Linked DNA regions of Homo sapiens. The protein of the gene in region 2 interacts with the protein of the main gene of each other region in a pairwise test. Each region holds a gene or a part of one and is shown on either strand. Other genes may lie near its edges.

The links.
Region 1: the proteins of ARMC10 (region 2) and FAM25G interact in a two-hybrid assay, tested with the Homo sapiens proteins (one large-scale study listed by BioGRID).
Region 3: the proteins of ARMC10 (region 2) and FAM25C interact in a two-hybrid assay, tested with the Homo sapiens proteins (one large-scale study listed by BioGRID).

Annotation. Positions count from the first base shown.
Region 1 is NC_000010.11:47,488,824-47,493,167, forward strand, and holds the start of FAM25G (protein FAM25G), read right to left. Parts: upstream 2,878-4,344; 5' UTR 2,852-2,877; coding exon 2,779-2,851; intron 826-2,778; coding exon 763-825; intron 1-762.
Region 2 is NC_000007.14:103,088,576-103,092,220, reverse strand, and holds part of ARMC10 (armadillo repeat-containing protein 10), read right to left. Parts: exon of another isoform or gene 2,593-3,645; intron 1-2,592. UniProt on the Homo sapiens protein: May play a role in cell survival and cell growth. May suppress the transcriptional activity of p53/TP53.
Region 3 is NC_000010.11:47,996,976-48,001,122, forward strand, and holds the start of FAM25C (protein FAM25C), read right to left. Parts: upstream 2,817-4,147; 5' UTR 2,791-2,816; coding exon 2,718-2,790; intron 765-2,717; coding exon 702-764; intron 1-701.

The DNA.
Region 1 (4,344 bases), on a different chromosome or scaffold from region 2:
TTCACGCCATTCTCCTGCCTCAGCCTCCCGAGTAGCTAGGACTACAGGTGCCCGCCACCGTGCCCAGCTAATTTTTTGTATTTTTAGTAGAGATGCGGTTTCACCGTGGTCTGGATCTCCTGACCTCATGATCCGCCCACCTCAGCCTCCCAAAGTGCTGGGATTACAGGCGTGAGCCACCGCCCCCAGCAATTATTTTTTTCTTTTTTTTTGAGACCGAGTCTTGCTCTGTAGCCCAGGCTGGAGTGCAGTGGCATGATCTAGGCTCACTGCAAGCTCTGCCTCCCAGGTACACACCATTCTCCTGCCTCAGCCTCCCAAGTAGCTGGGACTATAGGCACCCACCACCATGCCCGGCTAATTTTTATGTATTTTTAGTAGAGACGGGGTTTCACCGTGTTAGCCAGGATGGTCTCGATCTCCTGACCTCATGATCCGCCCTCCTCAGCCTCCCAAAGTGCTGGGATTACAGGCATGAGCCACCGCACCCTGCCATGTTAAATGTTTTGTCCCAGTGTGCTGTCACATAGTCTTGTGTGACTTTGTCTTCTTATTCCACAGAGAGAACCATCTAGACAGTGTCCTAACGCAGTACAGTCTGTGGCCTCTGATGAGCATAGATAACTGCCCCAGCCAAGAGGCTCTGAAAGGCTGCAACATTAGGGGCAGAGTTTGACCTGGTTAGTCAAAGAACAGGTTGGCCCAGCACCTAGCTTCCCTTCCTCCCTCCCTCCTTCCCTGCCCGACCTCAGCCGGCTGTACCTTTCTCTCCAGTCTCCTTGGCATGTCCCACCACCTCCTTCACCACTTCCTCCACGGCATGAACTGAACAGAGGAGACAAGTCCAGGGTGAGGGCTCAGAGCAGGCCGGCTGCCCCCGAGTCCAGGGTGAGGGTTCAGAGCAGAGCCGCTGCCCTCCCAGTCCAGGGTGAGGGCTCAGAGCAGGCCCACTGCCCTCCCAGTCCAGGGTGAGGGCTCAGGGCTGGCTTATCCTCACAACAGACCTATACATCCCTGGGCATCCTAGATGGGGCTCTGGGGTGCCACCCCCAGCCAGGACAGACTGACTCATGAGAAGGACCTTCCCCCACAGCTGGCTTCATTTGGAGACGCCAGGGCCTTGGCTGCTGGGAGACGAGCTCAATGAGCCCCATGAGGGCATGGGTCCCTGAAGCCCCTTGGCCCTGCCCGGCCTGGAATGGCAATGAGCAGGCAGTCTTGCCAGCTGAGACATGAAGCCCAGGCTGGGCCTGTGTGCCAGGTCACACCCCTCTCAGGATGTGCTAGCGCCTGCCTCAGGTTGGTTTCCAAAGCCTCATCCACTAAGACCAGGTCTCTCAAAGCAATTCCTCCAACAAAACGGAATTCTCTGCCTACTTCAGAGTTTTTTAAAGTGTGGGTGGTAGCGTGCTAGAACTGAAGGATTTCAGAGTCAGAAGAAATGGTTCTTATTCTAACTCTACCTTCCACCTCTTGGTTCCCTCATCTTTAGAATGGGAATCTGTTGGGATGATGAGACCCAACACCAGGTCACGGGGGCGGCAAGTCCAGCGGAGTCAAAGGAATGACAAAGAGACAGTTCGAGAGAGAAAATGGGAGCAGGGCGCTATCGCGAGTGTGGAGGCTGCGAAGGCCCCGAGTTCTGGGAGCCCACGCTATTTATTGGTGATCTAACAAAGAAACAGGTGGTGAGGATGTGGAGGTTGAAAGGAAACAGTGTATCAAGTGAATGAGAAACATATGGCTACTTGAGAGAATGGCAGTGCTAGAAGCAAGGAGCCAGCAAGTCTAGCAAGCCCTGCCTCAGCTTTTCTCCCAACGCTGAGCTTTTCTCCCAACAGGAATCATAAAAAACTCAGAGGCTAGTGAAAGGTTAAAGCAGGTGGTCCACACCAGCTGCAGAGTCAAAAACAAAATACGCATCTGCTGCCATTTAGAAAGAGGACACAAACTCAGGCAAGACTTTTTCACACGATGACCCATGAGTGGGGCCTGGCTGGGCCTCCCCACACATACCTGCTGACCTCTGAATACAACATACACTTCGGGACCAGGTGCAGTGGTTCACGCCTGTAATCCCAGCACTTTGGGAGGCCAAGAGGAATGGATCACTTGAGGTCAGGAGTTTGAGACCAGCCTGGCCAAAATGGCGAAACCCCGTCTCTGCTAAAAATACAAAAATTAGTCGGGCGTGGTGGTGGGTGCCTGTAATCCCAGCTACTCAGGAGGCTGAGGCATGAGAATCACTTTGAACCCAGGAGGCAAAGGTTACAGTGAGCCGAGATCGCACCACTACACTCCAGCCTGGGTGCCAGAGCAAGACTCCATTTCAAATACAAATACAAATAAAAATAAACATGCTTTAGGGGACTTGGATGAAATTGAAAATGCCCTTTTTGACTTTGAACAGACTTGGTGACTTGTTAAGAAATCTTTGAAGCTTTAAAGTTATGGTAAAAATAAAAATCCATCTTCCTTTTCCTGCATAGGTTATTCAGAATAGGCTGTTTTGACAAGAAAGGCTCCCCAGATTTCCAGAGGGAAGGGTCCAAGCTGCCAGTGTTCACCCAGCACCAGGACTCATGCCCTGCCCCCAGGAGACCTCCCCAGGTCTGCACCCCTCAACTCCGTGCTGACTTGGTAGAGCAGGAGACCAGGGTTCCTGAGGGGCCAAGGCCTCCCCGCAGGTCCTCGCCTGCCTACGTAGATCCGCCTCCCACAGACCCAGTCTGCCCCAGATCCCCCCAGCCCAGGTAGAAAGGAGCCCTGGGTCCTCACTGGCTCCCTCGGTGGCCTTCTCGGTGCGGTGGGCCAGGCCCTCGGCAGCCAGCTTCCCCAGGCCTCCCAGCATCGTGTGGCAGCAGACAGTGGCGAACTAGGATGCTGAGGACTGGCCCAACATGCTTTTATAGCTGCCTCTGGTGCCTATCTAGGCTCTGGGGCAATAAGCCCTCACCCCAGCCCAGTAGGAGGCTGGACAGGTGAGTCAGTGAGGGCGGCAGCAGGAAGGGGCTGGGCGGAGCCACCCTGGAACTAGGGTGGCAGCATCCCCTGACAGCATGAGGCTTCTGTAACCCTGTCCTAGGGACCCCGTGAAGGATAGGGGCAGGGAGCAGGGCTGGACAGTAGAGATCTGGACATGCTTCTTCCTTGAGGCAGAGGGCCTGAGTGCCAGCCCCCCTGAGACCAAAGCTTCCCAAGCCTGGGTACTGATATGTACCTGGAGACAAGGCCTAGGATTCCAAGCCTGCTGCTCAAGGTCCCCAGTGTGGCCTAGTAAGAGGTTTGGGGGTTCTATGGGCCTGGAGACCTGGGCAGTCCTTTGAGTCATGAACACAAGTGGAATGAGGGTGACTGCCCTCCCCATTCCTGGAGACCCTGGCTCTGCAGAGCAGTTTGCGGCCTCCATGGGACAGGGTGGGGCGTTCAGGGTGGTGCCTTGCCCGAGTCAGAGGGGGGCACAGCACTGGGCAGAAGCGTAGTCACCTGGTGTCGCTCAGCTGATGCTCACTCACCCAAGAGGCTCTGTGAGGTCAGCAGTGCCCTCCTATCCCCTGGCAGTCCTGGAGGAGTAGACAGAGGCCTCCACCACCACTCAGGGAGATGCTTCTGGCCTTAGCTAGAATCCCCTAGGAAGCAGCTTCCCTGGCTCCTGGTGCATCGCATGAGGAGTGGCAGGGCTGCTCCCTAGTTACTCATGATGGACAGACATGCCTCAAGCCACCTGCCACATGCTGCTTCCCTTAGTCACCAGCCCAACCTGAGCCTCCGTTTCCTCATCTGTAAAATGGGCATAGCGTGCCTTCTTGGCTGTGTCCCTAATCATCCCTGAGGCAAAGCATGCAAGCTCCTGGTAAACACCTGTTCCCTCCACTCATCATTGAGGTGCCCTTTGGCAGTGAGCTCTGACCAACTGGTAGGGTGTGCCAAGGAGTGACTGGGACGTGAGGCTGCCTTGGAGCCAGAGGGCTGGGGAATGTGACTTCTGCTGGCCAGGAGCCAAGGAGAGGTCTTCCCATGCTCCTACTTCTGGGGTGCAGGCCTGTGGCAGGGGTCTGAGGCTCTCTCCCCAATGCAGGCTCCTGGAGCTGCTCTCCTGGATGTGTCGGGGCCTGATTAGTTTACTGGACTGTGGGCCCTCCCAGCCTGGGACTCGGGAGCTGAGACCCTCTTGCATTCCTGCATGGTGTTTGCGGGCTCCAGGGCTACGGCCAGTCCCCCTAGGGTGGACAGTGGGTATCGTGGGCAGCAGGACCTCTGGGTCTCAAGACTGTGGCCCCACACATGCCATTGCTGTCTCCTTTGGGCAGGGGTGAATCGGGGCTTCAACAATTTAGAGGGGCC
Region 2 (3,645 bases):
GCTGGGACTACAGGCGCCCGCCACCACGCCCGGCTAATTTTTTTGTATTTTTAGTAGAGACGGGGTTTCACCATGTTAGCCACGATGGTCTCGATCTCCTGACCTCGCGATCCGCCCGCCTCGGCCTCCCAAAATTCTGGGATTACAGGCGTGAGCCACTGTGCCCGGCCAAAATATGAAATTTCTATCTGGCCCTCAAAAGTTGTTGACTTTTTAAAAGCTTCCTTTGGTAATTCCAGGCACAGTGCTTAGCATTTTACAAATACTCCTCACTTAATCCTGAAGACAACTCTAATGAGTTGGGTGTTGTACTATTACGGCTATCTTGCAGACAAGGACTTTTAAGTCTTTAAAGAGCTCGGGTCCCCTGCCCAATGTCAGACAGCAGGTGGGGATGCAATAGCCAAGCCCAGAGATCATGCTGTTAACACCAGTGGCTTCTCCCTGGTTGGAGGCCTCCCATCTTAGTCCACCTTTCGGTTTCAACTGGTCTGCGGTCTGCGCACACTGGGATCAGGGAAGAAGATGTGAGGCCATTTTGTATCATAGTAATAAGTACCTTAGCAGTAGGGTCTAGAGAGCTACATCATTTCAGAAGTAAAGAATGGGAGGATAATGTGAAACAGAATCTTTCCCTAGAATTAATCCTATCAAAAGTAAGCAGAACAAAATTATACTTGGCCTAAGGTTCTTATTTACCTAGGTGTGTATATATATATATATATATATATAATTCACCCCTTCATAATATTGTTAACTATCACTGGTAAAAAGTAATGCAATGCTGTAGTACTCTTGTATCATACATGACACAACTAAACTCAGTGTGATGGAAACTTTTCTGAAACTCTACTTTCTGTGTCTGGCCATGAGCTTTCTTTTTTTCCGGGGGGACAAGGTCTCACTGCCGCACAGGCTGCAATGCCACCATGCCCAGCTAATTTTTGTATTCTTTGTAGAGACAGGGTTTCACCATGTTGCCCAGGCTGGTCTCAAACTCTTGAGCTCAAGTGATCTGCCTGCCTCAGCCTCCCAAAGTGCTGAGATTACAGGTGTGCACCACCATGTCCGGCCTGGCCATAAGCTTTCTAGCTTACAAAAATTATGTTTTACAGATAACTACTAATCACTTAAGCAAATCTGAACTCCACCAAAAGTTCTAACTGCTAAGAAAATTTTCCTAATTTGAAGTGGTAAGTTACCAATTGTCCCATAAACAATTATTAATTTAAAAAAAATCCCAAATGTATCCATGTTACCATAGAAACTAAATGGCAGTAAAGCAATGAGAGATTAAACTTTTAATCTGGTTTCAAGATCTAAATTACATTTATTTTTAGAGACAGGGTCTCACTCTGTCACCTAGGCTGGAGTGCAGTGGTGTGATAACAGCTCACTGCAGCCTCAAATTCCCCCTGTCTCAGACTCCTGAGTAGCTGGGATTACAGATGCATGCCACTATGCCCAGCTAATAAATTTTTTTTTTTTTTTTAGAAATGGGTTCTCACCCAAACTGGTCAACACGGTGAGACCCCATATCTATTAAAAATACAAAAAATTGCAAGCGTGGTGGTGGGCACCTGTAATCCCAGCTACTCAGGATGCTGAGGCAGGAGAATTGCTTGAACAGGAGGCAGGGGTTGCAGTGAGCTGAGGTTGCACCACTGCACTCCAGCATGGGCAACAAGAGTGAGACTCCGTCTCAAAACAAAAACAAACAAAAATAAAGAAATGGGGTCTCACTATGTTGCCCAGACTGGTCTTGAACTCTTGGCCTCCAGCAATCTCCTGTCGTGGCTCCCAAGTGTTGGGATTACAGGTGTGAGCCACCACGCCTGGCCCTAATTTACATTTGAAAGTCAACTGGTTCTCTTTGGTTACAATTTAATTATACATCCATCCTTTAAAAACATGGCATTTATTTAGCTCTTTATAAATCATATACTTCTGTAAGATGCTGATGTCTTTCAAGGCATTTCCTAAAATGTGTGGACTGTTTACATCCTTATTATATCTGAATCTTTTTACCATTTCAATTATAATAACAAGATTACCAAATGGACCAGCTTAGTTATTCCTGCAGCTGTGTCCACCTCATCTTGTTCTGTTCTCTTGGAATTCTCTCCTTCCCCAACTCTACCTGTAGGGTAACATTCTCAAGAGCCAGGTCAGACTCCACCTCTTACAGAAACTTTTGGATGAAATCTCTCCTTTCTATGTACTCAATCATGTTTTACTTACATTTTTCTTTAAAGGACTTCATTATGTTCTGCCTTGACTTACAATTATTTAAGGACTTGCCTTATCCTTCCTTCCACCTTTCTTAGAACAAGAGTTGCATCATGCTCATTTGTATACTCTGCACCACAAAGCAGGAGGTTTGATAAATATTGAATTGAAATAACATAATTTCCTAATATTGCATTTTTCTGCTGACATTATCTGACCCTGGCCTGGTTCCTTTAGCACCCTTAGATTAAACTGAACCCCAACTCCAAAAGTCTTGTTGGCTGCAAAAGTTAGAAGCAGCCTGGCCAGCCTCCTTCAGTGGAATATGAAGGAGCCCTTGCAGATTTTGATTCCCACTCTAGAGCTTTTATCTAGATGACCATGGCAACTGAACAAAAGCTGGTGAGAGCTGTTAGAGTGTTTGAATTTGGTAGACCAGAAGTCCTGAAACTCAGTCAGATGTTGCAGTACCAGTTCCAAAAGACCATTAGTTGTAATCAAGGTTCATGCGTGTGGTGTCAACCCCATGGAGACATACATTTACTCTGGTATTTATAATAGAAAACCACCTTATTCTATGCTCAGATGTAACTGGGGTAACGGAAGCTGTTGGAGGGAATGCATCTACTTTCAAGAAAAGTGACAGTTTTCACTACCGGCACAATCTCTGGGAGCAGATTACGCTGTTTACAAACTGCCTGAAAAACTGGACTTTAAACAAAATGCTGCCATTGGTATCCCATATCTTACTGCATATCGAGCTCTGATTCACAGTGTCTGTATGAAAGCTGGAGAGTGTTCTGGTTCATGGGGCTAGTGGAGGAGCTGCAGTAGCAACATGCCAAATTGCTAGAGTTTATGTCTTAAAGGTTTTGGGCACAGTTGGTACTGAGGGACAAAAAGACTTTTGCAAAATGGAGCCCACAAAGTGTTTAATTACAAAGAAGTTAACTATGTTGATAAAATTAAGAAATGTGTGATAAGAAAGGAATTGATGTGATTATTGAAATAATAGCTAATATAAATCTTAGTAAATATGCGAATTGTTTGTCATATGGAAGATAAGTAATAGGTGTTGGCAACAGTGGTACCATTGAAATAAACCCATGGGACACTATGGCAAAAGAGTCTAGTAAAATTGTCGTTACTCTATTTTCCTCAACCAAGGAGGAATCTCAGCAATTTGCAGCAGCCTGTCAAGCTGGAATGGAAATTGGTTGGCTGAAACCTGTAATAAGTTCTCACTATATGTTGGAGAGGTGGCCCAGGCTCATGAAAATATCTCTCACGGCAATGGGGCTACTGTAAAAATGATTCTTCTCTTTTGATGATTAATTCTTTCATGGATTTCAGAGGTTGTCTTTTGCCCAGTTTTACTTACACAATCTTTTGTTTAATTAACATTCATTTGATCCA
Region 3 (4,147 bases), on a different chromosome or scaffold from region 2:
TGCCCGCCACCGTGCCCAGCTAATTTTTTGTATTTTTAGTAGAGATGGGGTTTCACCGTGGTCTGGATCTCCTGACCTCATGATCCGCCCACCTCAGCCTCCCAAAGTGCTGGGATTACAGGCGTGAGCCACCGCCCCCAGCAATTTTTTTGAGACCGAGTTTCGCTCTGTAGCCCAGGCTGGAGTGCAGTGGCATGATCTAGGCTCACTGCAAGCTCTGCCTCCCAGGTACACACCATTCTCCTGCCTCAGCCTCCCAAGTAGCTGGGACTATAGGCACCCACCACCATGCCCGGCTAATTTTTATGTATTTTTAGTAGAGACGGGGTTTCACCGTGTTAGCCAGGATGGTCTCGATCTCCTGACCTCGTGATCCGCCCTCCTCAGCCTCCCAAAGTGCTGGGATTACAGGCATGAGCCACCGTGCCCTGCCATGTTAAATGTTTTGTCCCAGTGTGCTGTCACATAGTCTTGTGTGACTTTGTCTTCTTATTCCACAGAGAGAACCATCTAGACAGTGTCCTAACGCAGTACGGTCTGTGGCCTCTGATGAGCATAGATAACTGCCCCAGCCAAGAGGCTCTGAAAGGCTGCAACATTAGGGGCAGAGTTTGACCTGGTTAGTCAAAGAACAGGTTGGCCCAGCACCTAGCTTCCCTTCCTCCCTCCCTCCTTCCCTGCCCGACCTCAGCCGGCTGTACCTTTCTCTCCAGTCTCCTTGGCATGTCCCACCACCTCCTTCACCACTTCCTCCACGGCATGAACTGAACAGAGGAGACAAGTCCAGGGTGAGGGCTCAGAGCAGGCCGGCTGCCCCTGAGTCCAGGGTGAGGGTTCAGAGCAGAGCCGCTGCCCTCCCAGTCCAGGGTGAGGGCTCAGAGCAGGCCCACTGCCCTCCCAGTCCAGGGTGAGGGCTCAGGGCTGGCTTATCCTCACAACAGACCTATACATCCCTGGGCATCCTAGATGGGGCTCTGGGATGCCACCCCCAGCCAGGACAGACTGGCTCATGAGAAGGACCTTCCCCCACAGCTGGCTTCATTTGGAGACGCCAGGGCCTTGGCTACCGGGAGACGAGCTCAGTGAGCCCCATGAGGGCATGGGTCCCTGAAGCCCCTTGGCCCTGCCCGGCCTGGAATGGCAATGAGCAGGCAGTCTTGCCAGCTGAGACATGAAACCCAGGCTGGGCCTGTGTGCCAGGTCACACCCCTCTCAGGATGTGCTAGCGCCTGCCTCAGGTTGGTTTCCAAAGCCTCATCCACTAAGACCAGGTCTCTCAAAGCAATTCCTCCAACAAAACGGAATTCTCTGCCTACTTCAGAGTTTTTTAAAGTGTGGGTGGTAGTGTGCTAGAACTGAAGGATTTCAGAGTCAGAAGAAATGGTTCTTATTCTAACTCTACCTTCCACCTCTTGGTTCCCTCATCTTTAGAATGGGAATCTGTTGGGATGATGAGACCCAACACCAGGTCACGGGGGCGGCAAGTCCAGCGGAGTCAAAGGAATGAGAAAGAGACAGTTCGAGAGAGAAAATGGGAGCAGGGCGCTATCGCGAGTGTGGAGGCTGCGAAGGCCCCGAGTTCTGGGAGCCCACGCTATTTATTGGTGATCTAACAAAGAAACAGGTGGTGAGGATGTGGAGGTTGAAAGGCAACAGTGTATCAAGTGAATGAGAAACATATGGCTACTTGAGAGAATGGCAGTGCTAGAAGCAAGGAGCCAGCAAGTCTAGCAAGCCCTGCCTCAGCTTTTCTCCCAACACTCAGCTTTTCTCCCAACAGGAATCATAGAAAACTCAGAGGCTAGTGAAAGGTTAAAGCAGGTGGTCCACACCAGCTGCAGAGTCAAAAACAAAATACGCATCTGCTGCCATTTAGAAAGAGGACACAAACTCAGGCAAGACTTTTTCACACGATGACCCATGAGTGGGGCCTGGCTGGGCCTCCCCACACATACCTGCTGACCTCTGAATACAACATACACTTCGGGACCAGGTGCAGTGGTTCACGCCTGTAATCCCAGCACTTTGGGAGGCCAAGAGGAATGGATCACTTGAGGGCAGGAGTTTGAGACCAGCCTGGCCAAAATGGCGAAACCCCGTCTCTGCTAAAAATACAAAAATTAGTCGGGCGTGGTGGTGGGTGCCTGTAATCCCAGCTACTCAGGAGGCTGAGGCATGAGAATCACTTTGAACCCAGGAGGCAAAGGTTACAGTGAGCCGAGATCGCACCACTACACTCCAGCCTGGGTGCCAGAGCAAGACTCCATTTCAAATACAAATACAAATAAAAATAAACATGCTTTAGGGGACTTGGATGAAATTGAAAATGCCCTTTTTGACTTTGAACAGACTTGGTGACTTGTTAAGAAATCTTTGAAGCTTTAAAGTTATGGTAAAAATAAAAATCCATCTTCCTTTTCCTGCATAGGTTATTCAGAATAGGCTGTTTTGACAAGAAAGGCTCCCCAGATTTCCAGAGGGAAGGGTCCAAGCTGCCAGTGTTCACCCAGCACCAGGACTCATGCCCTGCCCCCAGGAGACCTCCCCAGGTCTGCACCCCTCAACTCCGTGCTGACTTGGTAGAGCAGGAGACCAGGGTTCCTGAGGGGCCAAGGCCTCCCCGCAGGTCCTCGCCTGCCTACGTAGATCCGCCTCCCACAGACCCAGTCTGCCCCAGATCCCCCCAGCCCAGGTAGAAAGGAGCCCCGGGTCCTCACTGGCTCCCTCGGTGGCCTTCTCGGTGCGGTGGGCCAGGCCCTCGGCAGCCAGCTTCCCCAGGCCTCCCAGCATCGTGTGGCAGCAGACAGTGGCGAACTAGGATGCTGAGGACTGGCCCAACATGCTTTTATAGCTGCCTCTGGTGTCTGTCTAGGCTCTGGGGCAATAAGCCCTCACCCCAGCCCAGTAGGAGGCTGGACAGGTGAGTCAGTGAGGGCGGCAGCAGGAAGGGGCTGGGCGGAGCCACCCTGGAACTAGGGTGGCAGCATCCCCTGACAGCATGAGGCTTCTGTAACCCTGTCCTAGGGACCCCGTGAAGGATAGGGGCAGGGAGCAGGGCTGGACAGTAGAGATCTGGACATGCTTCTTCCTTGAGGCAGAGGGCCTGAGTGCCAGCCCCCCTGAGACCAAAGCTTCCCAAGCCTGGGTACTGATATGTACCTGGAGACAAGGCCTAGGATTCCAAGCCTGCTGCTCAAGGTCCCCAGTGTGGCCTAGTAAGAGGTTTGGGGGTTCTATGGGCCTGGAGACCTGGGCAGTCCTTTGGGTCATGAACACAAGTGGAATGAGGGTGACTGCCCTCCCCATTCCTGGAGACCCTGGCTCTGCAGAGCAGTTTGCGGCCTCCATGGGACAGGGTGGGGCGTTCAGGGTGGTGCCTTGCCCGAGTCAGAGGGGGGCACAGCACTGGGCAGAAGCGTAGTCACCTGGTGTCACTCAGCTGATGCTCACTCACCCAAGAGGCTCTGTGAGGTCAGCAGTGCCCTCCTATCCCCTGGCAGTCCTGGAGGAGTAGACAGAGGCCTCCACCACCACTCAGGGAGATGCTTCTGGCCTTAGCTAGAATCCCCTAGGAAGCAGCTTCCCTGGCTCCTGGTGCATCGCATGAGGAGTGGCAGGGCTGCTCCCTAGTTACTCATGATGGACAGACATGCCTCAAGCCACCTGCCACATGCTGCTTCCCTTAGTCACCAGCCCAACCTGAGCCTCCGTTTCCTCATCTGTAAAATGGGCATAGCGTGTCTTCTTGGCTGTGTCCCTAATCATCCCTGAGACAAAGCATGCAAGCTCCTGGTAAACACCTGTTCCCTCCACTCATCATTGAGGTGCCCTTTGGCAGTGAGCTCTGACCAACTGGTAGGGTGTGCCAAGGAGTGACTGGGACGTGAGGCTGCCTTGGAGCCAGAGGGCTGGGGAATGTGACTTCTGCTGGCCAGGAGCCAAGGAGAGGTCTTCCCATGCTCCTACTTCTGGGGTGCAGGCCTGTGGCAGGGGTCTGAGGCTCTCTCCCCAATGCAGGCTCCTGGAGCTGCTCTCCTGGATGTGTCGGGGCCTGATTAGTTTACTGGACTGTGGGCCCTCCCAGCCTGGGACTCGGGAGCTGAGACCTTCTTGCATTCCTGCATGGTGTTTGCGGGCTCCAGGGCTA